Linked DNA regions of Homo sapiens. The protein of the gene in region 1 interacts with the protein of each later gene in a biochemical or structural test. Each region holds a gene or a part of one and is shown in the gene's direction. Other genes may lie near its edges. The genes, in order: SIRPA, HSP90B1, IGF1R and INPP5D.

The links.
Region 2: the proteins of SIRPA (region 1) and HSP90B1 form a complex in vitro, tested with the Homo sapiens proteins (one study listed by BioGRID).
Region 3: of the proteins of SIRPA (region 1) and IGF1R, one has a biochemical effect on the other in vitro, tested with the Homo sapiens proteins (one study listed by BioGRID).
Region 4: the proteins of SIRPA (region 1) and INPP5D interact in a biophysical measurement, tested with the Homo sapiens proteins (one study listed by IntAct).

Annotation. Positions count from the first base shown.
Region 1 is NC_000020.11:1,912,378-1,919,412, forward strand, and holds part of SIRPA (tyrosine-protein phosphatase non-receptor type substrate 1 isoform 1 precursor), read left to right. Parts: exon of another isoform or gene 1-1,945; coding exon of another isoform or gene 1,946-2,024; intron 2,025-2,721; coding exon 2,722-3,078; intron 3,079-7,035. UniProt on the Homo sapiens protein: Immunoglobulin-like cell surface receptor for CD47. Acts as docking protein and induces translocation of PTPN6, PTPN11 and other binding partners from the cytosol to the plasma membrane.
Region 2 is NC_000012.12:103,933,410-103,940,409, forward strand, and holds part of HSP90B1 (endoplasmin precursor), read left to right. Parts: intron 1-546; coding exon 547-878; intron 879-4,285; coding exon 4,286-4,397; intron 4,398-4,930; coding exon 4,931-5,050; intron 5,051-6,099; coding exon 6,100-6,216; intron 6,217-7,000.
Region 3 is NC_000015.10:98,651,523-98,658,557, forward strand, and holds part of IGF1R (insulin-like growth factor 1 receptor isoform 1 precursor), read left to right. Parts: intron 1-7,035. UniProt on the Homo sapiens protein: Receptor tyrosine kinase which mediates actions of insulin-like growth factor 1 (IGF1). Binds IGF1 with high affinity and IGF2 and insulin (INS) with a lower affinity. The activated IGF1R is involved in cell growth and survival control.
Region 4 is NC_000002.12:233,168,307-233,175,341, forward strand, and holds part of INPP5D (phosphatidylinositol 3,4,5-trisphosphate 5-phosphatase 1), read left to right. Parts: intron 1-998; coding exon 999-1,095; intron 1,096-1,719; coding exon 1,720-1,858; intron 1,859-2,189; coding exon 2,190-2,298; intron 2,299-2,757; coding exon 2,758-2,846; intron 2,847-7,035. UniProt on the Homo sapiens protein: Phosphatidylinositol (PtdIns) phosphatase that specifically hydrolyzes the 5-phosphate of phosphatidylinositol-3,4,5-trisphosphate (PtdIns(3,4,5)P3) to produce PtdIns(3,4)P2, thereby negatively regulating the PI3K (phosphoinositide 3-kinase) pathways.

The DNA of each region.
Region 1 (7,035 bases):
GATATGCCAGTATCAACTCCACCTAACACATGAAGAGAGAGGAGATTTGCCCAGGGTCATGGAGCCAACGACATCCTTCCTTCCTTCATTCATTACCGCATTCATTCTGCATATTTTTATCGATGACACTGTGTTTTAGGCAGGAGGTTGGAAACAGTCCCTTGTGGATCCTACATCCTACTATTGGGAATGTGACAATCCAGAGAAAATCAAATATGTGAATAATACAGCTATGTGATAATAATGGGAATAAGAATTAAAACTTACCCAGCACCTATGCAGCAGGCATACCACCGTGTCAGGGTCCTCATGACTGTGCTGGGGTGGATGCCGGAACCCCACTTCATGGATGATGGAATGGGGGTCCAGGGAAGGTGGGTACAGAGGTGGCTAAGAGGGGAGCCATGCTGTCACCCAGGCCTGCTGGCCCTAGCAACTGTGCTTCCCCGAGGCAGCCTTTCCAGTTGGTCCAGTCTCGAGGCTGAAATACAGACCTATCCGGAAAGTTCCTAGCTCAGTGCTGCTGGTGCTGCCTCTGATGTCCCCGCCTGGATGGGCCTCCCGGGCCTCCCACACATTTGGCCACCAGCCTCACCCCTCTCAGGCCGTCTGATGCTGGCTGGGCCTCTGTCCACTGTGGGTTCTGTCTGTCCACTGTGGGTTCTGTTTTTTTCTCCTGTGCCATGAAGATCTTGCCATGTTCAACTTCAAATGGAAATGAAATGAGAAGCTGGACTTCCTGATAATAAAAGCAGTTGAGGTCTTAAGTGGTTGATCAGGAAAAGGAAGTCGAAATGGTAATATTTACACCCAAAGCAGGTGGAGTGGTCTTAGGCACTCTGAGACTCCACTCACCTGCCATGAGAACCGGGCCCCAAGGGTGATCCCTTGCCAGAGTCAAGACTGGGTGAGGCTGGGAATGGGAGAAAGAGGCAGGACAATGGGCAGATAGCCCTGGGCTTCCTGCAGTGAGGGCAGATAGGGGTCTGTGAGCCTCTTTCCCTGGCTGCCCTGCCCCTGCCAGTGGGGTGGTGCCAGGCCATGGGTTGGTGGGCAAATTCACAGGGTCTCTCTCCTCCCCAGCCAGAGCCAGAGGGGCACAGCAGCTCTGGACATCTGCCGCAGCCTTGTCTGATGTACAAGGCAAAGGTGGCCCAGGTCAGGGCAGGACAAGGTCACATGAAGGGTCAGTGGAGAGCCCAACTGGGGCCCCAGGTCACCTGTCACCTGCATACCAGGTAGCTGCCACTCCTCTGTCTACCTGGTTCTCTCCTTCTCCCCTATTCTAGCTCGCTCTCTCACTCTGCGTCTGTCTCTCAGGCATGTGTTTCTCTGAGGTCTTTATGATCATGATCTTTCTTTTTTTTGTTTCTTGTACCTCACCTTGTTCAGAATCGAGGCCCTGGCTCTGCCTTGCTCTGAACTGTTCTCACTTGGTCCCTATCCATCTTCAACGCATCTCATGACAAGCTCGTCCTGCCCTCTTCCTGTCTGGGCTCCCCCCGTGCACCCCAATCTCTCCACCCAGGGTCCCTGTCTTGTGTGCCCCAGTGTCTCTGATTGGGGCTCAGGCTCCTGCAGCCAACCTCTACAATTCCTTCCAGCTGCCCATTTGGGAGCCCTTGAGGCCTGGACTGGGTCCAGCTCCAGTGTGTCCCCATCACAGTGAGGCCTGGATCACAGGGCATCAGCAGGTGTTGGTGAGAGTGAAGTTTGAGCCACAGCCACCTCCTTGTTTATTCAATGTATAGTAACAACAACTTCCTCAGGGCCCATCTCAGGGCTAAGTGACTTCTATGTGTGATCTCGTTTTCTTTTCAGAACAAAGCAGAGGCCTGGGGGCTGTTCTACCCATCCTGTAGATAAGAAAACTGAGACTCAAAACTGATGGATAAATTAAGGTCCCACAAGAACAAGGGGCGAGCCAGGTTTCAAACCAGGTCCGATGACTCTAAAGACCAGATGCTGCATTTGGACGCTGTCCCCAGCCTTGGCTTATTTTATCCTCCCAGAGATCCATCGAGGTGGGGTCATAGTAACTATTTTACAGATGAAGAAACCAAGGCTGAGAGCAGTAAGGGCAAACTAAGGGCAGCTCTTGCATTTGTGTGACACTTTGCTAGCCAGGCTCAGTCCTGGGTTCCAGGTGGGGACTCAAACACACTGGCACGAGTCTACATTGGATATTCTTGGTTACCTGAGTGGTGGCCCAAGGACACAGCTATAGGCCACTGATCCAGAACTCAAACTACATTCTCCTACTGCCCAAACCGCTGAGTACAGCCTCCCTTCTCGGGGCCTGCATCCTGGGCCAGGCCAGAAACAGAATCTTAACACCTTGTACAGCCCCAGATATGCCAGGCCCCTACCTCTGAGTCTTTGCCCAGGCTGTTCCCTCTGTCTGGAATACCAGGCTCCCTTCTGGCTCATTCAGATTAGAATTAGCCCAGCTCAGATGTGACTCTTCCAGAGAGGGTCCAGGCATTCAAACCCACTCTCTGCCATGTCATTTAGCTTTCTGTGCCTCAGTGTCCCCACTTAGAATACAGGCTCATGTTGCAGGTTTGTTGTGAGGGTCAAATGAGATGATACATGCACTATACTGATCTCACAGCCTGCTTCTGGTGTGCATCCAGTCAATGAACGTCATTGATAAACACTTGAGGAAACACAGAGGATCACGTAAGGATGAAAAAATGACTGCTTTGTGCTCCTTTCCAGGAGTGGCGGGTGAGGAGGAGCTGCAGGTGATTCAGCCTGACAAGTCCGTGTTGGTTGCAGCTGGAGAGACAGCCACTCTGCGCTGCACTGCGACCTCTCTGATCCCTGTGGGGCCCATCCAGTGGTTCAGAGGAGCTGGACCAGGCCGGGAATTAATCTACAATCAAAAAGAAGGCCACTTCCCCCGGGTAACAACTGTTTCAGACCTCACAAAGAGAAACAACATGGACTTTTCCATCCGCATCGGTAACATCACCCCAGCAGATGCCGGCACCTACTACTGTGTGAAGTTCCGGAAAGGGAGCCCCGATGACGTGGAGTTTAAGTCTGGAGCAGGCACTGAGCTGTCTGTGCGCGGTGAGTACAGCGTGGGCCTCCTTTGCCTCTGGTTTGTGACAGTAACTCAATAATAACACCCTCCATTCTTTGAGCAATGATCAGGTGTGGTGGTAGGTGCTCCTTTCCATGAATTGATGTCTCCCCCTTTTACAAATAAGGGAAGTTGAGGCCTGAAGACGTCATGCTATTTGCTGAAGGCTCCACAGCTGGTAAAGGGTGGGAACATCTGCATCCTTCATCTGCCTGGCTGTGTAGCCCTGGCCTCTTCAAAGCTGACCCAGCCCTTTCATTCCACAGATGAGGAAACTGACAGATAGTGTGACTTGCCCAGGCACAGGACCAGACCTCACCTGCTGCCTCCAGAGAGCACTTCCCTCTCAGGGCAGCCGAGTCTCCTCTATGTGACAGGCACTCACTGAGAACCTACTGTGTGCCAGGCTCCGCCAAGCTTGTGTTCTCATCCCTTCCAATAAGAGATCCACCCAGGGCAGGGAGCAGAGAGGGTGTGTTTCCTTTATTTCATCACCAAACACCAACTGAGAAGATTCCTAAAAGGCACAGATTTACTGTTTAATCTGATGGCCCTGGTGAGAGGAGAAGCCAGAGGGTTGGGCATTTTCTGTGGGTCTTTTAGAAAAACACTTGTGTGATTTAGGGACTGATTCATGCGTCACTAAAGGCTCTGAACAAAGCTGGGTCATCATAGAATGTCTCTCACCCCAGGGAGGAGGTCTCCCTTCTAGGTGACTTTGGGTTCCTCCGTTAAGGCAGCAAAGATGCTCATTTTGTATTTACTGCCAGAGCCCCAGGATCCTTGTTCTAACTCCGAATCCTGGGACATTAGTACAGGAAGGACCCTCAGACCATCCAGCCCAACCCCTAGTTACAGGTGGAAACTTGAAGTCAGGAGATGACAGGGGCCTTGTCCACAGTCATAGGCCCAGTTAGTGACAGGATCTGGACCAGAGCCCACATCTGATTCCAGGGAGGCTCCTTCATTAGCCATTGTTTACATAGAAGAGCCTGGTGCATCATAGGTGCCGACTGAAAGCTCCTTGAACAGAACTGCTAAGCAGGAAGCCAGCACTTCTCCTTTCCATCAGTTTCCTAAAGGTTCAGAATATTCACATTCAGACCGTTAGGCCCACTGGTGATTGGAAAACCGCTCCCAAATGTAAGCCATATCATTTGATACTGAGATTTCATATCAGGATAGAGACCTGCTCCATTGTGTAATAGCTACAGAATACTCCAGCTTATGGAAATACCAGATTTATTTTACCATCTTCCATTGATGGATACGTAACTTGTCCCCAAACTTGAACTATTAAAACAGTCCTGCAGTGGATGACCTTATACATGTGTGACCTTACTCAGGTGGGAGACGCCCACTGCAAGTGCCATTGCTAGATCAGAGGGGGTGTGTGTTTTAATGTGTGTGGATATGGCCTAATTTCCCTCCTAGACATTATAACAATCAAGTCTCCCCACAACCGCTGGACATAGGCAGGGAGGGTGGCTTTATCCTGATTGTGCAGATGTTACAGGAAAAGACGTTGAAGTTCCCAGATGATGCATCTCGTGCCTAGACAATCACAGCAAATACGTGGCTCAGGTGTGACCCAGATCTGCTGACTCCTAGCAGAGTGCTCACTCCTCTTTGCCATGCTGTCAGCCTAAATGATGCCCTGGATGAGAAAGGAGGGAGGTGGGAGGGGGCCAGGGAGCAGCAGCTGGATTGGATCCTCATCCTGGCACTTTCTCCTTTTATAACAAGTACTTATGAAGGAAGAGCCATTTCTTGCCCCCTTTACAGATAAGGACTCTGAGGCTCAGAGAGGAGACCTGTGTGGTGAGCCAGTGGGGGAGCCAAGGTTTGATCCCCACCAGCCTGACTCACAGCCCCTGTCTCTGTAACACTCAGCTATGCTTGTCAAAGTGTGGAGAAATGCTCCACCCTACTCATTCCAAACTCTTGCAGTTCTATAGCAATAAGCATAGGCTGAGGCAGGAGAATGCTTGAACCCAGGAGACGGAGATTACAGTGAGCCGAGATCGCACCACTGTACTCCAGCCTGGGTGATAGAGCAAGATTCTGTCTTGAAAGAAAAAACAAAACAAGTCCTATGGGAGTAGGAGGGACTGGCCCCCATCAGAAAGGTCCTGCAGATGTCTCATGATATGGGAACTTGTTCCTAAAGGACAGGTCTCAGCACATCACTGAGTAGCATCCATGGAGCAGAGTTGGGCCTCCTGCAGCCCAGCAGACCACGTGCCCACCTACTCACGGTGCTGAGGACTAAGGATGAGGAGATGAGGCATTTCCTGGTGGGTGCTTGGGGCTCATTGGAGCAAGAGTTTATATTATCCCCTCAGGCTGTCAGGAGCCCACTGACTTCAGTTTATGGCTATAGGGTAACCAGATCTGGGTACCCTGGAGGGAGGCTTCTCCCTAGAACTGCATGAAGTCAGGGATCTCAAAGGGAAAAAGGGAAGGTGGTGGTCAGTGTCAGGGTTCATGAAGTTCAGGCACTTGCTCAATTGATTGACATGAGAGCTTGGGGAACACTGGAAATGCCCATTGGGTACATGAGGGATGAGGAGACAGTGCCTTCGCTTTTCTCAGCCTCAGTTTCCTCATCTGTAGAATGGTGATAATCAGGGACTCCTTTGGCAGAGTGGAAAGGATTTGAGTTCCTGTGTATAAAACACCCAATGCAGAGTAGACACCCCCAAATCAAGGTTTTTTGTTTGTTTGTTTGTTTTTTCTTTTTTTTTGAGATGGAGTTTCACTCTTGTTGCCCAGGCTGGAGTGCAATGGCACCATCTCGGCTCACTGCAACCTCCACCTCCTGGGTTCAAGCGATTCTGCTTCAACCTCCCAAGTAGCTGGGATTACAGGGGCACCCACCACCACACCAGCTTTTTTTTTTTTTTTTTTTTTTTGTATTTTTAGTAGAGACATGGTTTCATCATGTTGGCCCGGCTGGTCCCAAACTCCTGACCTCAGGTGATCCCCCCACCTCGGCCTCCCAAAGTGCTGGGATTACAGGTGTGAGCCACTGCGCCCTGCCATCAAGGTGTTATTTTAAGATGTGTTACCTTGGGCAACCCAGTTCCCCTTGCTGAGCCTCAGTTTCCCCATGCGTAGAACGTCGATAATTGTACCAACCTTTCCAGGATGTTATGAGGATGCAATGAGCCTGGGGCGACGATAGACCTTAGTAAGCAATGGGGTTTTCCCAAGGTCATGTGATCTTGGGCAAATCCTGGCTTCCCTTGAGTCCTCAGCTTCCCTGTCTATGAAATGATGATGATGATTGCCAACCCTCACAGGTTCTGTGAGGATTGGAGAGGATGTACAGAGCCTCGGAATGGTGGCGGTGTTCGGGTTATCACTGAGCTCCTGCAGAAGTGTGGTTAGGAGAGTGTGGCCAGAGTCCAACTGCCTGGGCCACATCCCAGCTCTGCCACCTCCTGGCTCTGTGACCTGGGACAAGGCACTCCACCACCATGGGCCTCAGTGTCCTCACTTGTCAGTGATAACACCAACCTCACAGACCAGGAGTTGGGACCGAATGAGTTAAATCCTGTAGCGTGCTTAGGGCAGCAGGCGCCTGGCCTGCAGTCAATGTTCAACAGATGTGAGCTGTGTGATGCTGAAGCCATGCAACCTCAGATGGGTTAGTGCTCCTCCAGGCCTCAAGGATAAATGGTCCTTAGGATGTACTCAGGTAGTTTTCAATCTTGGCTGCTCTTTAGGATCATCTGGGAAACATTGAAATAAATCCCAGGCTCCACCACAGAAATGCCTCTTCAATTGGCCTGGCATGGGCCTAGGCATCTAAAGTTTTTAATTAATCCAGAAGATTCTAATACAGAGTCAGGACTGAAAACCCCTGGGATAGACACCCAGAGGTCACGGAGGACAAGTTGGAAAAGATGGTCCTCTTGGGGTGCCAGATGGGAGAACAG
Region 2 (7,000 bases), on another chromosome or scaffold:
ATTATAATTAAAGGCTCAGCCTGAAAACAGAGCTCTCCTTTACAACTCATTGGCCATTTATAACTCATTGGCCAAAACTAGTCACATGGCCTTAGCCATTCTTAAATGGAAAGTAGAGTACTCCTAAGTTTCTGGAAGGCAGACAGCCAGGAATATTGAGTGAAGAATATTAATGATCCATCACAGATTCCAAATAGAGGAATCATTCAAGTTGTTTTGTATTCTAGTAAAGAAATAGGCAAGACATAAAATTTTATTTTTCTTGAATTGTTTTCCTTCAAAGGTAACTTGTTTTATTTAGGTCAGCCTCTAACCTTTGACATTTAGGCCAGTCTGCCCATTTGATATTAATACTTTCTCAAATACATAAATTACTTTAAGATGTACACTTTCAGAAAAGGCCATAAAAAACTATGTGGAGGAAAATATCTCAGTTTAGTTTTCTGTATTGGAATTGATGGGACCCAAAGCTGGTTAGTTCCTCAATATTTGTTTGGCATAATGTAAATATTAAATACAACTATCTGGTTCTTGTCTTGCATTTAGTGTGATAAGGAGAAGAACCTGCTGCATGTCACAGACACCGGTGTAGGAATGACCAGAGAAGAGTTGGTTAAAAACCTTGGTACCATAGCCAAATCTGGGACAAGCGAGTTTTTAAACAAAATGACTGAAGCACAGGAAGATGGCCAGTCAACTTCTGAATTGATTGGCCAGTTTGGTGTCGGTTTCTATTCCGCCTTCCTTGTAGCAGATAAGGTTATTGTCACTTCAAAACACAACAACGATACCCAGCACATCTGGGAGTCTGACTCCAATGAATTTTCTGTAATTGCTGACCCAAGAGGAAACACTCTAGGACGGGGAACGACAATTACGTGAGTATGACCAATTCCTTATAAGAATTAATAGTCATGGTGAGGATCTTGACTCTCCAGTTCTATTCTCTGAGCAAATGACTTATTCTGGGCCTTAATTTTCCTGCCTTATAAAATGAGGAAACAGAACTGTTGTCACTTGAAGAAATGTTTGAGGACCTGCAAAGGGCCAGGCACAAAGGTTTGTGATTGCTGTTGTACATGGAGGGTATAAAGTAGGAAATAGCAGCAGCTTCCCCAAGGGAGAAGGCTTCTTGGGTACCCACAGAGGAGGCACTGCTTGGTCAGTTTCCCAGGTTAGAAGAGTAATTTGTCTGTGGAGCATCCTGAATAAAGGCATGGAGGCATAGCATGCTCACTAGATGAACAGAGTTCTTTTCGGTGGCAGTTATGGATAGAATGTGATGAACTTTTATTTATTTATTTATTTTGAGACGGAGTCTCACTCTTGTTGCCCAGGCTGGAGTGCAATGGCACAATCTTGGCTCACCACAACCTCCGCTTCCTGGGTTCAAGCAATTCTCCTGCCTCAGCCTCCCAAGTAGCTGGGATTACAGGCATGTGCCACCACGCCCAGCTAATTTTGTATTTTTAGTAGAGATGGGGTGTCTCCATGTTGGCCAGGCTGGTCTCGAACTCCCGACCTCACGTGATCCACCCACCTCGGCCTCCCAAAGTGCTGGGATTACAAGCATGAGCTACCGTGCCCAGCCAGAATGTGATGAACTTTTTAAGATTCTCAAGGTGGTGTGGAGGATGTGAGGAGTGGACAAGGGGAGACTCTTTGGGGGAAATATTCCTCTTGAAAATATTCAAGATGAGTGGTAGCAACCAGGGCTGGGGCTGGCTTGTAGAGATAAAGGGCTTAAAGAAAGTTCATGAAAGTTGTGAAAGCTGTGGAATAAAATACGTCATTTAAGGATAGTTACAAGTTTTTAAATTTGAATTAAGATCCCTCTTAAGCCAGTAACTGTTGTTTGTATGGGTGAGACAGAGCCAGTGCCCTACAGTAGCTCTCGTTGCTTATAGCACTGTGACGTAGACAGGGCAGCTTTTTGCCTTTTTAAAATTTTACCATCTTGGAGATGAGGAAATTCTATTTCAGAGGTCAGTTGGCTTGCCAACTCCTGCTAAGTGAGTAACAGAATGTGCCCACAGCTTCAATTTTTTTTTCTTAATTCAGTTTTAAGTTTTCTTAACATTAAGGGAAAGAAGCACATACTTATCATTGTGACCAACTTTCTTCATCCTAGAAAGTAACATTTCCTGTTTTTACTGCAGCAGATGTTCTTTTAATGAAGACTAATTAGATGACTGCATTTTAGTACTTTTTTAACTTGTGTTCCCAATTTACCTTCCCCTGCCTTCGTCACTAACATTGATGTCTCCAGGTTTCATTTGGAGGCATCACTAAGAGTTATGCCCCAGTGCCCTCTCTTTTTAAGCACTGGGCTAGATGTTGGAGAAGGATAGGGCAATCATTCCCAAGGAAAGATAGAAAGTGATGTCCCAAGAGATGTTAATGTCAGGTTGCTAAGAAGCAGGTGAAATTATCTGGATATAAGCTCCATGAAGGCAAACATTTTGTTGGAAGCTCCATTCCCAAAGCTTAACACTTAATTGGCAGCCATTTGTATGAATAAGTGAGGTTAAACAGGACAGTTCCATGCAGGGAACGATGGCTGCTAACACCTATCCAGGACCTAGTTTCCATGACCATGCATATCTTTTTAAAAATTTCCTTTGCCCACTTCTTAAATGTTAACATACATTTTCTCCAAGTTAAGTTTCAGCCCTTTTCTCATTGTCCATGTGATCTTTATGTAGTCTTATCCACTGCCACGGCCTCAGGTTCCATCTCTAGTTCTCAAATTTATATTCTTAGCCTAGATCAGGAGTTAGCAAACTTTTTCTTAAAAGAGCCAGCTAGTAGAAAAAAAGATAAAAGAAAACAACAAGAAAGAAAGAGCCAGCTAGTAAATATTTTTAGCTTGTGAGCTATATGGTCTGTCACATGTCCCAACTCTGTTTAGCTTGAAAGCAGGCATAGACAATACATAAGGATGTGTCCCAGCCAAGTGTGGTGGCTCATCCCTATAATCCCAGCACCTCGGGAGGCTGAGGTGGGAGGATCACTTGAACCCAGGAGTTTGAGGTCAGCCTGGACAACATAATGGGATCCCATCTCCACAAAAATAAAAAATAAAAAATTAGCTTGGCACAGTGGTGCATGCCTGTAGTCCCAGCTACTCAGGAGGCTGAGGTAGGAGGATTGCTTGAGCCTGGCAGGTCAAGGCTGCAGTGAGCCATCATCACGCCTGGGTGACAGAGGTCCAAAAAAAAAAAAAAAAAAAAAAGTGTCCCAATAAAATTTCTAATGGGTGCCAGCTGTACAGCTATAGCTTGCCAGCCCCTTGTCTAGGTCTCACTACTGGGCTCTGTGTTCATGTGTTTAATTGCCTTTTAAATGCTTCTACCTAAGATATCTAACCAGCAGCTTCTACTTGCATCCAAAACTGAACTCTTAATCCCCAAATCACTAGAACATGTGCTCTGAGACCAGGGGCCTAGTCACTCACTAGGCTTTGTCATATCATGGCTACTTATTGGCCAGGTACCACTAAACTAATGAGCCTTTTGAGACAGGGAGGGAACCATAGATAGACCATTTCCCATACTTAATTGGGAACACAAGTATCAAGATATGGACTACCTACTGTGCTTAAGAGTAGGTTCTAGGCCGGGCACAGTGGCTCACACCTGTAATCCCCGCACTGCCCGGTAGAATTTTATATAATAGTAGAAATGTTCTATATCTGCACTTTTCCATTTTGGCGATCACCAGCCACATGTGACTGTTGAGTACTTGGAATGTGGCAGCATAACTGGAACTGAACTGTACATTTTATTTAAATAAGTCACATGTGCCCAGTGGCTGCCATTTTGGATAGTGCAGATATAAATATAAACCAGATTAATTTTCTAGCTTTTTTAAGGAAAATGTTTTCATTAATTAGGAATAGTTATCTACAATAATCATTAGGTTTCTGGAATAACAGTAAGAGCTATGAGAGTGCATGATTCCATTTCTCTCCAGAATATTTCAGTGCTTTCTCACCTTGAAAAATGAAAACAATCTATTCAGACGGTTGGGAATATTTTAATTTTCTACTTAAAACTAAGGTTATTCTCCACTTGAGGTAATGTAGAGGAGATTCTTCTCTTTACTGTATCTACATGTGTTACATTTTAGCTCACAAACCCTTGTTGGTGATGGAGAGTTAACATGAATAATTAGGACATCTTGGATTATACTGAACTGCTGGCTATTACCATGGTATTTAAATGAATTTATAATCAGATCTTCTAAATGTTAGGTGTCTCTAAACATCGAATTTTTCTTGCAGCCTTGTCTTAAAAGAAGAAGCATCTGATTACCTTGAATTGGATACAATTAAAAATCTCGTCAAAAAATATTCACAGTTCATAAACTTTCCTATTTATGTATGGAGCAGCAAGGTAAATCTATATTGATTAAAAACTTATATGTATTACCTTGGCACGTATTTAAATATTCAACACTAAAAGAATGAAGGCAGGCCGGCGCGGTGGCTCATGCTTGTAATCCCCGCACTTTGGGAGGCCGAGACAGGTGGATCACCTGAGGTCAGGAGTTCGAGACCAGCCTGGCCAACATGGCGAAACCCTGTCTCTACTAAAAATACAAAAATGTTAGCTGGGTGTGTGGTAGCACACGCCTGTAATCCCAGCTACTCGGGAGGCTGAAGCAGGAGAATTGCTTGAACCCGGGAGACGGAGGTTGCAGTGAGCCAAGATCGCCCCACTGCACTCCAGCCTAGGTGACAAAGCAAGACTCTGTCTCAAAAAAAAAAAAAAAGAATGAAGGCAAAATGTGGTCTATTAGTTAAGGATACTCTCAGGGTTTTCTTACAAAAACCTATTTTTTGACCTGTAATGTTATATCATATTCTGTAGACAAAATCAGAATTGTTAAACAAATGAGTTTAACCATAATTCTCTTATTTCAACAGACTGAAACTGTTGAGGAGCCCATGGAGGAAGAAGAAGCAGCCAAAGAAGAGAAAGAAGAATCTGATGATGAAGCTGCAGTAGAGGAAGAAGAAGAAGAAAAGAAACCAAAGACTAAAAAAGTAAGTCTGGTTTATCTCCCTGCATAAGATATTGTTTAACATGTATAGGCAAAACCAGGAAAACCTAAGTATGCACTGGCTGATTTGAAGTCAGCTTCAGTTCAGGTGCTAAGTCCATGGAGCCAGCTTTTAAAATAAGGCCTTTGTTTGTATGTTGAATACATTGTCCTGTAGAAAGTTTTAAGTATCAAACCCAGGTCATTTTTATGAAGAGTTTTCTAACTTTTATATATTGCCTAGGACTGGTGGCTTATATGTTTGGAATTTTAAAATCTTAAAAAGCCTTCTGAGTCCTCTTTTGTCTTTTTATCATGCAGAGATTAACCATAAAAATGGTTCTCTGGCTTGCTTAGGTAGCAGACTAAGAAGTATTGATCATGGTGGTTGAGAAATATTTTTGTAAAATGTTGGATTTCTTTAAGTCATGAAATGGGAATATATAATATGTATTTCCTTCTAACCTCAAAACAAATATTTTCAAGAAACATTTTTGCTAGTTAAAAAATAACAATGAAGAAAAACTTAAGTGGCTTTTCATCAGTTAACAATTGTCTTTTTGAATTAAATATTGAGAAAAATACTTTGCTTTTGATACAGTTGGCAGAAACCTTACTAGATAACAGGTATCCTTTGGTGCCCTTTTTTTTTTTTTCTTTAATTTGGAGACAGAGTCTCTGCCACCCAGGCTGGAGTGTGGTAGCACGATCATAGCTCCCTTCATCCTTGAACTCCTAGGCTTAAGCAGTCCTTTCACCTCAGCCTCCCAAGTAGCTAGGACCACAGACACACGCCACCATGACTGGCTAAGTTTTAAAAATTTTTTGTATAGTTGGAGGTCTTGCTATGTTGCCTGGACTGGTCTTGAACTCCTAGGCTCAAACAGTTCTCCTACCCTAACCTCCCAAAGTGCTAGGATTACAGGCGTGAGCCACCACACCAGTCCTCTGGGTCTTTACATAGTCTTTTGAAATCTACTGAAGCCATGGTTACTGCTAGGATAACCTTGGTGAGTGCTGAGAGAGACTAATCAAATACTATAATAACTTCAGGTTGAAAAAACTGTCTGGGACTGGGAACTTATGAATGATATCAAACCAATATGGCAGAGACCATCAAAAGAAGTAGAAGAAGATGAATACAAAGCTTTCTACAAATCATTTTCAAAGGTAAATATTTATAATTCCCTAGTTTCTGGTTATTAATGAATAGACAAAATATCACCCTCTTAGTTTAATTGTATATGGTATGTGACCATGAATATGAGATGGTCCATTCCCATTTTTTCCCAGTGAGAAAATTCAAAAAAAGACCTTTAGGCCAACTATAATATGTCTACTTCTGGTTTATTGACCTAGTCACAATTAAAATCACATTTATGAACCTTTGAGATTGACACCTCAGTAGAGATGGTCTTTGAGAGTAATTGGTTTCCAGAACACACCATTTTTACTTAAGTTGAATTATTATACTCATCACTACTTCAAAATTGCAGCAGTTATTAAAATTAGTCCTAGCTCTTAGTGAATAGTGAAACTACAAAATCAAGAATGTTTGAAACAGTTTTATGGCTGTTTAAACACAATTGGTTTCCTTTTTATTCCTGTGTATTTTGTAATATGTGATTTTTTTAAAAAAATTATTTTGAGAAGGCATCTGTAGCCTTCACCAGCTTGCCAAGGGTTTTGTGTGACAAAAAAAGATTAAGAACCACCTACATAGGTAGATGTGTGATTTCCACCACAAAACCCGTAAAACATGAAATCATGTTGTTAAGTGGCTTTTAATATAATCTTTAAAGAGCTTGCTTATGACATCAAACACTTATTGTGAGATCCTATGCCTGGGAATAATTACTAAATTTATGTTTCCTTGCCTGTTTTTTTTTTTCTTCTTCTTTTATTGATCCCTTCTTGTAACTCTTAAGGATGCAAAACTAGCATTGATAAAGTT
Region 3 (7,035 bases), on another chromosome or scaffold:
TGCAGTTGAACTGTATAGCTTCTCTAGTTTTGTGTTTTTAATGTTCTGAAATTCAAAACAGCAGGGATGGCCTTCGCCGACGCAGGAGTCGGGCATTTTAAAATAGGCTGTTTTTCTTTTGGAGCGTTCTTCTTGAAGGATATTCTTTGTGCAAGACGGCGATTTTTGAGAACACAGGCAGGAGGGAGGGGGTGTTTTAATGTATGTTTTTACTCCATGATACCAAAGCTTCCCCCCAGGATCCCTTTACAGTGGTTAGTTCCTGGAAACCTGATGGGTGGTCAGAAGGCACCCCAAATCTCGATTATGGTTTGCTGAAGTCTTGACTGACTCAGTACCTGCCCCTCCCTCCATCTCTGAAATGTGGAGAATTAAAAGCTATGCCTGTGAACGGGCGTTCAGTTTTTAGCCGGGAAGGTGCTAGACCACTTAACTCTGATAGAAATAAGCTGCTGAGCCCTATCAGGGAGGGCGTTCTTTCAGCTGTTGTCTGGTGGAGAAATAAAGACAGGGTGTTGGTTCAGTTGCAGGTATTTTGCTGGCGTATTGAGAGATTAGAGTTTCCTCTTTGAGTGTGATGGCAGTAGAAAGAGTGTTGTTTATCTTAGAAAACTTAGTTTCTGAAGCAGAGGCAGTCATATGGATGTGTTTGTTTTGTATCACCATAATGTGAACAGAGCATCTAAATGAAGGCGGTTCGGAGGTTCTGAGTGATAGCCAGATAATCTGAGGGCTATTTTGTTTTTAAAAAGTCAGCATGCACTTTAAATTTATTGTACCCATCTCCTTAAAAGGATTCAGTCATCTTTCTACCCCAGGCATCCTGTTGTCACAGAAATGTAGGTATGTGAAATGTTGGTGTTTAAAGAAGTTAGTGTTTTATTACCAGAAGGAGAACCCAGAAAAAGAACTTCTGAAAGAACCTAAACAGCAAATTATAGTTTAGATCCTCTGGAGAGACATAGCAAGCAAATGGTGTTTTGTGGAAGGGTGGGGTTTGTGTCAGGATTTGAAATGTAAAAGGTCATAATGTTTGATTTGTCGAAAAAGATTAGAAAAGTTCAACTCTAAGAAATATGCTAAGGTTGAATAGATGAAGCTTAAAAATATCACAAAAAGTGAAAGAAGTCAGTCACAAAAGACCACATATCGTATGATCCGGTTTATGTGAAATGTCTAGAATAAACAAATCCATAGAGGCAGAAGGTAGATGAGTGGTTGCCAGGGGCTGGGGGCGGATGGAATGGGGAGTGACTGCTGGTGGGCACAGGGTTTCTTTTTGGGGTGATGAAAATTGTTCTAAAATTAGTTTGTGGCGATGGCTGCATAGCTCTAAATATACTTAAAACCATTGGATTATGTACTTTAAATCGGGGACTTTAATGGTATGTGAATTATATCTCAATAAACCCTTTTTTTTTTTTTTAAAGAAATGTGATCAGGTTGAAAATAACTTGTTATGCTACCTTAAATTACGTTAAAATTATTACATACATTTGACAGGCTGATGTCTCTCTCTCTTTTCATTTATGAGTTTTTCAGATCCGTGAGTTGCAGCAATACAACAAACTGATAATTGAAGCTTAGCAACAGGGATTCAATCCCGCAGTAGAAATGGGCAAGCAGGAGAAAAAGAATCTTGGTTCTATGTAGCTTCAGTTAGGGATTGAGGAGCTGGATTTAAAAAACACAAATGCTGGTGGAGGGCAGATTTTTGACAATAGAAACCTCAGCTGAATCTGAAATGATGGTTTTTTTCAGGATAGAGTTTAGGAGCTGAGTCTGAAGGGCTGTTTGTATTTCCAGTTTTATTATGTTTTCCAACAAAGAAAGACATTGCTGTTTTAAGATGTTTTAAACACTCATTTTTTGATATGCCACATTGACCACAAGTGGTAGTAAGGACTGAGGATGAACAGAACAGTTCATTTTAATGCAGTATTGTTGTTTCTTTTCTTTGCAGTTTTATTTTATTTCTTACATAGTTCCAGGGTCTGAGCAGGAGAAAGAATCTTTAGGATGCAGTAGTTTTAGGATACACTGTTTCAAGTATACAGTGATTTTTATAAAATTAAAATTCCTTACAGAACGAAAGGTTTTAAAATGTGGCAAAGGCATTTTTGTTTTGAAACTGTGTGCATTTATCCAGATTTACCCTGGCCTTTCAATAGGAAAAGACCTAGAGAATAATTGTTGTTTACATTTGCTTTTGGTCTTTGTCTAAGGCTTAGTTTACTAATAAAAATGTTTCCTGCCCTTCCTATTGTTGCAAGATCAGGGCAGTAATGAAAATCAACTGTATCATTTTCACTTGTTGCCTTAGAGTTTTTGCCAAGAGGAACCCTCAAGGGACGGTGGTTTCCTTTTAAATCTGGTTTCATTTGTTTTGTAAGAATGTGCTGTAAGAAGCAACTGAATCCAGCCTGCACTTATTGTGCACCTACTGTATGAAAGCTGACCTTGTGCTACTCAGTGCATGAACCTGCAGAGTCTTGCATGAAACCACCTTTCTTGAAATTCAGATTTTTTTTCAGACTCAGTATAGGGTGCAGTTTTCAAGTAGACAGTAGTTAGCATTTTAAAGGTTCTTTTAAAAATATTTCTGTAGACTTAGGACTCTAGTGTTGTTCATCAGAAGCCTTTACCCTATACCTTTTTTGCCTCATTGGTGCTTTCCGTTATATTGGGATGTCACTGTAGACTGTGACATACAGGTGATGTTAACCCATCTTGACTGGCGGCACTGTCTTCTTTATAACATTGGATATGGCAATTGTGATTTACAAACTGCAGTGTTGTAGTTGCCTTTTTCCAAAAATTAGGAGTCACAGGTGTGTACATGAACGTTGCATAGCATGTTTTGAGTTGTAAGAAAGATGGAACTTATTTCAGAAGTTTTCTGGATTACATATTGCTTAGTTAGCTTTCTAGAAATCAGGAAGCATTCATAATTTCAGGGCATTTTATAATTTGTAAATAACTTGGTGTTTTTAAAAGCGTGAGGGAGTAAGAGTGAGGAGACAAATCCTGAAAGTTTTTGTTTTTTAATTGTAAAGCATACAAGATACATTTCTTTATAGGTTGTGATTTTCCCCAATTTGTTTTCAAAACTCATTTAAAAATCAGACCTAGTTCATGGAAGAGGTATTTGCGCCTGTGGGCGAACTTGATTTGAACTGCTTTTCTTAGCCAGCTTAGGACAGGTGCTGAGTCCAGGGGATGAGCTCTTCTCAATTGTACTAAATATATAATAGTTGCACACATGTTACGGATATAGTTTCTTGATTTCCAGTCTGAGATGTTCTGAAGGAAAATTCTGAACACTTTAGAGACAACAAAGTGCCTAATGAGTGATGCACTCTGATCCCTCCTGGAAAATGGTGTTTGGCATCAGCTTAGCAAGAGGAGGTTTTCCAGTTATTTGTAAAGATGTGATGTGGCTTTAAGTGGGGATGGGGGAGGGTAGCAGCCCCAGTGTTTGTGGACATTGAGACCTGTTGACATTTGGGAAGCATAACTGAGTTCCACTATTTGAAAAGATTAAAACTTTGATATATGTACACATCCCCTCATGCCTGCACCCCCATCCCCGAGGGTCTGGAAAAGAATTGATTTGTTCTGAGGAAGGAACATATATTTGGAATATAAAATGGTTAGTAAACAAAGGATCTTTAAAACAAGTTAGATTGTTATCTCAAGAGAAGCATACTTCCTCGGCATGATGTTTTCTTTTGTTAAATTGCTTTGGTTTTATTTGACTCAAAGTATTAACAATACCTTTGATTTTGAGACTTTTGGACTTTTGAAGACTAAGTTTTTAAATGGTCAATTTTACTCGTTTGAAAGTCCCAGATACCATTTTTGAAGATTTCTCTCCCTTTTTTTCCACTGATGCCGGCTTTACTTATGTTTTATTTTCAAATCTTAAGGAAAAACTGATATTTCCTTACTTGAACTGAGAAATAGTCGTTTTCCCTCCCTCTTTTCTTCCACAGTAAATACATGTTGAGTACTTACTGGATGCAGTTCTTTAGGTTTAGAAATTATTTGATACTGTAAAATGTCTTACCATAAGTTTTTAAAGATACCCGTCAAACTATAGATGTTACTGCCATGTTTATTAAAAAAAAAAATAAAACGAAACAAACTAGTAAGCAAGCTTAAAATTTTTCTTTTTCCTGCCCTGGACTACAGATTTTTTTTTCTTTTTTTTTTTTGAGACAGGGTCTCTGGTCACCTAGGCTGGAATGCAGTGGTGTGATCACGGCTTGATTCTGCCTTGACCTCCCAGGCTCCAGTGATCCTCCCAAGTAGGTGGGACTACAGGCACACACCACCATGCCTGGCTAATTTTTTGTATTTTTAGTACAGACGAGGTTTTGCTATGTTGCTCAGGTTGGACTCAAGCGATCCACTCACCTCGGCCTCCCGGAGGGCTGGGATCACAGGTGCGAGCCACCGCCCCCAGCCTACAAGAATTTGTAAACTCATAGATTGCTCTTCTGTTTTCACTGGACCACAACAGAAAGTAGTTTCTTTTATGGTGAGGGATGAACACCTACGATTGCAATATAAGTTGTTGGGCCTTGTGTCCATGGAGCTCACTTGGTGGTTGGTGGTCTTGAAGCATTCACATTCTTTGGAGTAGTGGGGCGGCTGGCTAGTCACATGGGGAAGATGTGCACACCTGTGGATGGGGCCATCACACACTGCAGCGATAGCTGGGCCTACCTTACTGCTCACCTGGCTGGGCACAGCGGCTCCTGCCTGTAACCCCAGCACTTTGGGAGGCCAAGGTGGGCAGATCACTTGAGGTCAGAAGTTCAAGACCAGCCTGGCCAACATGGTGCACCCCCTTTCTACTAAAAATACCAGAATTAACCGGGCGTGGTGGCCCGTGCCTATAATCCCAGCTACGTGAGAGGCTGAGGCAGGAGAATTGCTGAAACCCAGGAGGCAGAGGTTGCAGTGAGCCAAGATGATGCCACTGCACTCCAGCCTGGGTGACAGAGCGAGACTCCATCACACACACAAAATACATATATAAAAATAAATTGCTCACCTGGTAATAGTCTGGAAAACATTTTTTTTTTGTTTTTTTGCATATTTTAAAGACTTTAGAAAGTAGTCTTGCTAATCCAGAAAGTTCTTGCGGGGAGGAGTTTGAAACTTTGTTTTATCTCACTCCTCAGTCTTAGCCCCCTTAATACCATAGGTCTCTACTTCAGTAAGAGTTACATAATACGAATGCCGTTTGTTCAGAATTGTGTATCTCCATCCATCCGTCCATCGTCCAAATTCTGCGAGTTTGAAATACATTGTTGTTGCTGTTTTGTATACTTTTGTTCAACCATTTTCTTTTTAACATGGCACTAGCTTTCTCAAACTGGCTTTGGAATTATTTGTCAGTTTAAAAATAAATACCACTTTAAAAATTACTCTTGACATGGGAGAACAAATATATTTTGATAGTTGTTAGAGCATAAATATTTTATAGAGCATAACTTGAAATTTTTCCTGATACATTGTGATTGCTTTCAGCTTGTCCTCTGCTGTAAAAAATATAGTCGTGGTTAGTCTCTGTAAAGTTGGTTATTGGGAATATGTGCTTGATTACGTAAATGAGACATCACCAATTTAAGTCAGCCAAAGTTTAGTCAATAGAACTTTAAAGAACAGAAGTCTAATGGTAATTAGGGAGAGATGAATTTATTTGTAGGAGTTTTCCCCAAATTCAAAGCGTCTTAGTGACCTTTGATAACTTCCTGGAAAAAGTAGGAAGCATGGAGAGAAATTCCAGGTAGGAGCCCATGATCCAATTGACTGCATCAGCTTACAAAGTGTTTTCTAAGTCATTAGCTATTAATTCTGTCTAGATTGTAAAATCCCTCTCAGTTGTGTCCACATTTATCTGTGTTGTCCTGTATTTATTCTCTTTACCTAATTTCCCTGAGTCTCATTTTAGTGGGATAATACACAAGCTTACAGACTCAGGACTTTAAAGAGAAGCACAGATTGCCACGAAAACAAATGAACACAGAGACCAGTAGCAGCAGAGGGAGATCTGCTGTGAGGCTTCCCTTAGTTCTGTTGTCTGATTTCTGTGGATAATGAGTTCACTGCATATGTTAGGTCACAACATGATATCGTGTAGTCGTAGGTACAGAACTTTTGTTATGGTAGCCTTTCTTCGTCAGGTGATACAATTGGGATTTTCTTTCTCACATGCACCTCAGTAAAATTTTCAGCAACAGAGATTGGCTCAGGATGGAATTTGTTCAGTTTCAGTTCTGCAGCCTGTCCTTTTCTGGGGAGACTCATTAATTGAATGTTGCCTTTCGATCTCACTGAGTCACTTGAAATCGCTCAGATTGACCCCTATTCCGGGATCCAGCCTGGTCCAGTGCAGACCTGCATTGACTCTGACTACATGCTGAGTTGGCCTCTGAACCAGTTCCTGTACCATTCCCTTAGTCTGATGGACTTGCCAGCTCCAAATACTCAGAACGTGCCTCTTGTGGTCCTAGGATCAAGTCCAGGGTCCTTAGAATCAAGTAATGAAACAGGTCCTTAGTAATCCTGTGCTGTAGGGATCCACTGTTAGTTCCTGGTACTCCCCAGCATCTGTGCATTAGCTTGATGGAAAGGAAGCTGTGTTATGCCTGTCTTCAAGTTTTTGCTTCTGCTGTTTCCATAGCTGAGAATGTTTTTCCTCTTCACTACTCTGCTACTTCTCCTTCCATCCTCAATACTGAATAGCAGAAAGTGCCGCTTAAGAACACAGGAAGGTCACCATAGCTTTAGTTTCTCCTTAGCTGCCAATTAGTTCTTTGGTCCTAAAGTTATTAACTTTTCTGAGTCTTGATAGAAATGCGGAGACTTAAAAATATTTGGGGGAGACATTTCTCCTTTTCTCACTAAACAACAGAATGAAAACCTTTTCTAACAGGTTTAGAAAACCAAAGTCAGAAAAATTGTGAGGAAATAGAATAGGTTTTTTAAATTGAAATAATTTCCAAGTTCCAGGTGGATCTG
Region 4 (7,035 bases), on another chromosome or scaffold:
ACTCACAACCTGTCTCATTTTGTACCAGCCACATTTCAGGTGTTTGATAGTCACATGTGGCCTGTGCCTGTATTGGACAGAGCAGGTTCTCACCTGCATGTGTCAGAATCACCTAGAGCAGGGGTTAACAAGCGTTTTCCATAGAAGGCCAGATGGTGAATATTCTAGGCTCTTTGGGCCACACAACTGTCACAATGCTTCAGCTCTGCCATCGTAGTCTGAAAGCAGCTACAGACAATCCAGAAGTCAATAGGCATGGCTGTGTTCCAGTAACGTGTTCTTTACGAACACTGAAATTTGAATTTCGTATTTTCATGAATGACAAAAGATGGTTTTTCTTTTGATTTGTTTCCAACCATTTACAAATGTAAAACCATTTGTAGCTGGCAGTGAGCCAGCATTTGCCCACCCCTGACACTGGAGGGCTTGTCAAACACAGATTACTGGGCCCCATCCCAGGATTTCAGATTCAGTAGGTCTGGGGTGGGGCTGAGAATCTGCCCTTCCATGAAGTTCCCAGGTGATGTGCAGCTGCTGGTCCAGGGAACTCCCTTTGGGAACCACTGACCTAGAATAGATCAGAACGTTGGCAGAAAAAGGTATGATCTCAGTGTGGGTTTTTGGTCTCCCCAGGAAACTTGAGTTCACTGGGAGGGAGATCAGCCCACCCAGGCTGGAACCTTCTGAATCTTCCCAGGGCTTCTGGCTGCCCGCTTAGCACCCTGGTCACTTTAGAGAGAGATGCCGGGGGAGGATCGCAGCAGCCACCTTCCTCTGCCCCGCCGAGAAGGCTGAGGCTGCCGCCATCTGCACTGCTCCTGCATTTTCTCATCTCCCGCTCTCTGCCCAGCGGCTCCCACCCTGCACGACCCTGTTTCGCCCATCCCTTGCCAGCTCCTCACTCACTGCCCCTCTCACCCTGCCTTCGGGTGATTTCTGGCCCCTTGGCAAGTGTGTCTGTTTGATATTTTGATTCTTCTTTCTGCTCTTCTTTTTAGGGAACAAGGGAGCCGTGGGGGTGTCGTTCATGTTCAATGGAACCTCCTTAGGGTTCGTCAACAGCCACTTGACTTCAGGAAGTGAAAAGAAACTCAGGTAATGGAACTCCTTCCCCCCAAGAGTGTGCATTTGGGCTGTCTGCCCAGACACGCCTCACACCTTTAAGCACCAGAAGGACCTGCTCAGCTCCTGCCTTTGACCTTGTGGATGTCCTGTGGCCTTTCAGGGCCCACCACAGTCTCATCAAAGGCAACTGCAGCACCATAGTGACCTCACGTGTGGAGGAATTTTGTCTGAAGGTCAGAAAAGATATTTCCTTGTGTCATTAGCCTGATGGACCGCTAACTAGCACTGTTTCTAAAGCAGAAAGCCTCCTCTGGGGCCTCCTTACAAATCCAAGCTGATCTTGCCTAGCTGGGGCCCAGGAATGAAGACAGCCATCTAGAATCTTCACTGTTCTGATTCTCTGCTGAGCAGATGCTGCTGCTCCTGGTCCCCTGCCCTCTGTACACCCAATGTGGCCTCAAATGCCCTTTGCATCCTGGCTGTGCCATATTTGCACACTAAGGAGTTCTGCTGCAGCAGGGCTGGAGGGCTAAGTCTCACTTCCCCCCACCTGCTATGCTCCTCGCCCCACACCTATGGCAGGAGTGACTTCCTGCCACAGTGGAGGGGGAACCAGTGACCCCGTGCTAGATGGCCGCTTTTTCCTTGCATTAGGCGAAACCAAAACTATATGAACATTCTCCGGTTCCTGGCCCTGGGCGACAAGAAGCTGAGTCCCTTTAACATCACTCACCGCTTCACGCACCTCTTCTGGTTTGGGGATCTTAACTACCGTGTGGATCTGCCTACCTGGGTAAGGGCTGCCCGCCTGGGGCTGGGGCTGGGGCTGTATGAGATGGAGGCTCCCTTGAGTCAGCTTGGGGCAGGTGGTCGTGGAGACATGTGAATCAAGTGGGCTGAGGCGGCTGCTCCCCTTGGGGGCTCAACGCTGTTTCCATTACTGAGCCTCAGCCGCTCCTCACGGTTCCCCTGTGCTCACACCCGGTTCCCATAACTGTCACAGCCACCCTGCCACCATCACTCTGCAGCCCGGGTCATCCAGCTGCCCGCCCCCAGCCCCGAAGCTTGTCAGGCCTGGATCAGCAGGGCTTCTCACCAGAGGCCCGGGCATGTTCTTGTTCCAGGAGGCAGAAACCATCATCCAGAAAATCAAGCAGCAGCAGTACGCAGACCTCCTGTCCCACGACCAGCTGCTCACAGAGAGGAGGGAGCAGAAGGTCTTCCTACACTTCGGTAAGAGCAGCAACCCCGGCTGGGAGCGGTGGCTCACACCTGTAATCCCAGCACTTTAGGAGGCCGAGGCGGGCGGATCACGAGATCAGGAGATGGAGACCATCCTGGCTAACACAGTGAAACCCCGTCTCTACTTAAAAAAATACAAAAAATTAGCCGGGTGTGGTGGCGGGTGCCTGTAGTCCCAGCTACTTGGGAGGCTGAGGCAGGAGGATGGTGTGAACCAGGGAGGCAGAGCTTGCAGTGAGCCAAGATCGCGCCACTGCACTCCAGCCTGGCCAACAAAGACAGACTCCGTCTCAAAAAAAAAAAAAAAAAAAGCAGCAGCCTCTCCTCTTGGAGCCTTTCCAGCCATCCTTTCGTCCCCTTTCCCCTGATTTCCTACCAGAAGAATAGGGAAAATTGGCCAGATGCAAAACCTGGGGAATCAGAATTAAAACGAAAGTCTCTCTGTTTCAGAGGAGGAAGAAATCACGTTTGCCCCAACCTACCGTTTTGAGAGACTGACTCGGGACAAATACGCCTACACCAAGCAGAAAGCGACAGGGGTGAGTCCTCTTCATAGACACCTTCCCTGCCCTCCATCTCCTCCCCGCTGGTGTCTGTTCCCAAAAGGTGAACAGAAAGTGTCTTCATCCATTAGGCAAAAAAAAAAGGAAAGAAAAAAATTAGAAAGCACATGTTGATTTGTGTTACAGAGTAAATGGGAAGCCACACTTGTGCACTGCTTTGAGCTGGGAAAATAACCCTTGTGATTTACCTTCTGTCCAGATACTCTAAGATGCTGAGAGGACTTTAAAGTATTATTTCCTTAACTGGGTTCTGAAGATCATTTTTTTAAAGTCCCGTGATCAAATATATTTACTAAACTGCTGAGTGAATTAACATTAAGCAGGTTTCTTCGCTGCAGGACTTATCAGAGCTTTTATGGGCCCAAGAGCACTGTGGTTCTCCATGAGGAAATCTGTATGCCAAACTCAGTTATTCATGGAACACCAATTAATGTCTTATGAGGCCACTTGTTTTCCAAGGAACAGTGTTTTGGGGAAAGATGCAATAAAATATGTATTCATTTGTTCAAAGATATTTCCTGATGGCCTATTATGGGTTAGGCACTCTCCTAGGTGATGGGAGAGCAAAGATGTCTTTTCCAGGGACTTCACAGTAGGAAAAACAGATATGCAACTAGCTGTAGCCAGAGCCAGAATGTGACAATGCCAGGGCAGGGAAGGATCAGGGAAGCCAGCCCCTGGCAGGATTCAAGGGTCAAATGGCTGGGACGGTGAGGTACCCAGGCCCACTAGAAGCCTAGGGCAATGGAGCGCAAGTTCAAAGTGTCATCTGAAAGAGTTCTGGGCCCCATCTGGGCTCAGGAGAAAGTGAAGAACTGGACGTGGGAGAGGAAGGCCAAGCGCTGGGTGGATTTTAGAACAGAGCAGGAGAGGAAGAGAATACAACTGAGAGGACAGGAGGAGATCCCGGACTGCTGTCACCCACGAGGCTGGGACCCCCAGGATGGGACACCCCATTCCGCAGGGTCCACTGCCTGCTGTGTGGATAAGGTCACCTGGCCCAAAGGCACTGTCAGAGCAGGTCCTTGGGGATCCCTGTGCAGGCTGGTGAAGGATGGTTTGCTTTGATGTGAGTTTAAGTTGAGGCAGAGGAGGGCCTGAGATGGGAGAGTGGCCGGTCCTAGATGCCAGGATGACAGGCCACAGGGGGCCACTGCAAGCTCTGCCGGGCACTGGTGCATCAGAGTGGCATGTGCAGAATTGTGGTGGGCATTGTGGTAAAGGATGAGGACGCGGCAGGGGCATCGGTGAGGAGGCCGTTGTGCACATTCAGCTGAGCAACAGCTAGGGCCGAATCAGGGAAAAAACAGTGAAAATGAAAGAAAGGGGGAAATCAGGATATATTGCGAGACCTGATTGCCATTGATAAAAACTGGAAAATCACAAGGCGGAGCTGGCTTGAAGGGGAAAAAAATAGAACTTGTTTTCAGACTTACTGATTGTGTGACATCAGTGGAAGAACCCAGAGAAAATACCCAGAAGGCAGCTGAAAATAGCGATGCGTCGCTTAACAACGGGGATATGTTCCGAGAAGCGTGTCATTAGGTGACTTCGTCATTGTGGGAACCTCATGAAGTGTGTATACACAAAGCCCACTTCAGTTAGATGGTGTGGCCTATTGATCCTAGGCTACAAACCCGTATAGCATGTTACTTTACTGAATACTGTGGGCAACTGTAACACAATAAGTTTTTGTGTATCTAAACATTAAAAAGGTACAGTAAAAATATGGTATAAAAAGAAAAAAATGGGCTGGGGGCAGCGGCTCATGCCTATAATCCCAGCACTTTGGGAGGCCGAGGTGGGTGGATCACTTGAGGTTAGGAGTTCAAGGCCAGCCTGGCCAACACGGTGAAACCTTGTCTCTACTAAAAATACAAAAATTAGCCATGCATGGCGGTACACGCCTGTAACCCCAGCTACTCGGGAGGCTGAGGCAAGAGAATCGCTTGAACCCGGGAGATGGAAGTTGCAGTGAGCCGAGATCGCGCCATTGCATGCCAGCCTGGGTGACAGAGCAAGACTGTGTCTCAAAAAAAAAAAAAAAAAAAGAAGGTGGTACACCTGTATAGGGCACTTACCATGAATGAAGCTTGCAGGCTTGGAAGTTGCTCTGGGTGAGTCAGTGAGTGAGTGGTGAATGAGTGCGAAGGCCTAGGACATTACTATGCACTGCTGTAGACCTTACAAACACTGTACACTTAGGCTACCCTACATTTATTTTTTAAATTTTCTTTTTCCAATAATAAACTAACCTTAGCTTACTGTAATTTTTTATTTATAAGCTTTTTATTTATAAACAATTTAATTTTTGACGCTTTTGTAATAAAATGTAGCTTAAAATACAAACACATTGTACAGCTGTACAGAAATATTTTATTTCTTTATATTCTTAATCTATAAGCTTTTTTTCAAGTTTTAAAATTTCAAAACTCTCATTTACATTGACTTTTTTGTTGAAAATTAAGACGTAGGCTGGGCACCGTGGCTTATGCCTGTAATCCCAGCATTTTGGGAGACCGAGGTGGGTGAGTCACCTGAGGTCAAGAGGTCGAGACCAGCCTGGCCAACATGGCAAAACTCTTGTCTCTACTAAAAATACAAAAATTAGCTAGGCGTAGTGGTGTGCACCTGTAATCCCAGCTACTTGGGAGACTGAGACAGGAGAATCGCTTGAAACCTGGAAGCAGAGGTTGCAGCGAACCGAGATGGCGCCACTGCACTCCTGCCTGGAGCAAGGCTCCGTCTCAAAAAAAAAAACAAAAACAAAAACCATAAATGCACACATTAGCCTAGGCTGAAACAGGCTCAGGATGGTCAATGACATTATCACCCACCTCCACATCTCATCCCATGGAAGGTCCTCGGGGCAATAACATGGAGCTGTCGTCTCCTATGATGACAATGTCTTCTTCTGGTTACCTCCTGAAGGACCTGCCTGAGGCTATTTTATAGTTAACATTTTCTTATAAGTAGGAATACACTCTAATGATAAATAATATCGTAAACACGGAAATGAGTGACAGTTGTTTATCATTATCAAATATTATGTACTGAACAGAATTGTACTGTTATGCTTTTACACAGCTGGCAGTGCAGTGGGCTGGTTTGCACCAGCATCCCCAGAAGCATGTGAGTAATGTGTTGCGCTGTGACGTGATGACAGCTACAGCAGCACTACGTGATGGGGATTTTCCAGCTCCATTATAATTTTGTAGGACCTCTGTCCTATATGCAGTCCATTACTGTGGTACATGACTATTTGTGGAGCCCCACGGGTAATTCTCAGAGGCAGCTGATGCCGAGAACTGCAATGTTAAGAAGTAACTGTTTAGGCTGGGCACAGTGGCTCATGCCTGTATTCCCAACACTTTGGGAGCTGAGGCAGGTAAATCATTTGAGGCCAGGAGTTTGAGACCAGCCTGGCCAACATGGCGAAACCCCATCTCTACTGAAAATACAAAAATTAGCCAGGTGTGGTGGCGCACTCCTGTGATCCCAGCTACTCAGAAGGCTGAGTCAGGAGAATTGTTTGAATCCGGCAGACAGAGGTTGCAGTGAGCTGAGATTGCCCCACTGCACTCCAGCCTGGGCAACAGAGTGAGACCCTGTCTCAAAAAAAAAAAAAAAAAAAGGACTTAACTAACTGTTAGGCAGAATCAATGAAAACTAAAAATGCACCTATTCTATGATTCAGTAATTCCGCTTTGGTGTGTGTTCAAGAGAAATTTGTATATTTGTTCACCAAAAATAGGTATAAGAATGTTTAGCCGGGCATGGTGGCTCACGCCTATAATCCCAGAGCTTTGGGAGGCCAAAGCAGGTGAATCACCTGAAGTCAGGAGTTCCAGACCAGTCTGGCCAACACCGCGAAACCCGTCTCTATACAAAATTAGCCGGGCATGCTGATGGGCGCCTGTAATCCCAGCTACTCGGGAGGCTGAGGCAGGAGAATCACTGGAACCTGGGAGGTGGAGATGGTGGTGAGCCGAGACCATGCCACTGCACTCCAACCTCAGCAACAGGGCGAGACTCCATCTCAAAAAAAAAAAAAAAAAAAAAAATGAATGTTTATGGCAGCCTTGTTTGTAATCTTCAAAACTGAAAACAACCCTATGTCCATTAACAGTAGAGTAGATAAATGTGATACTTATAAACAATGGAA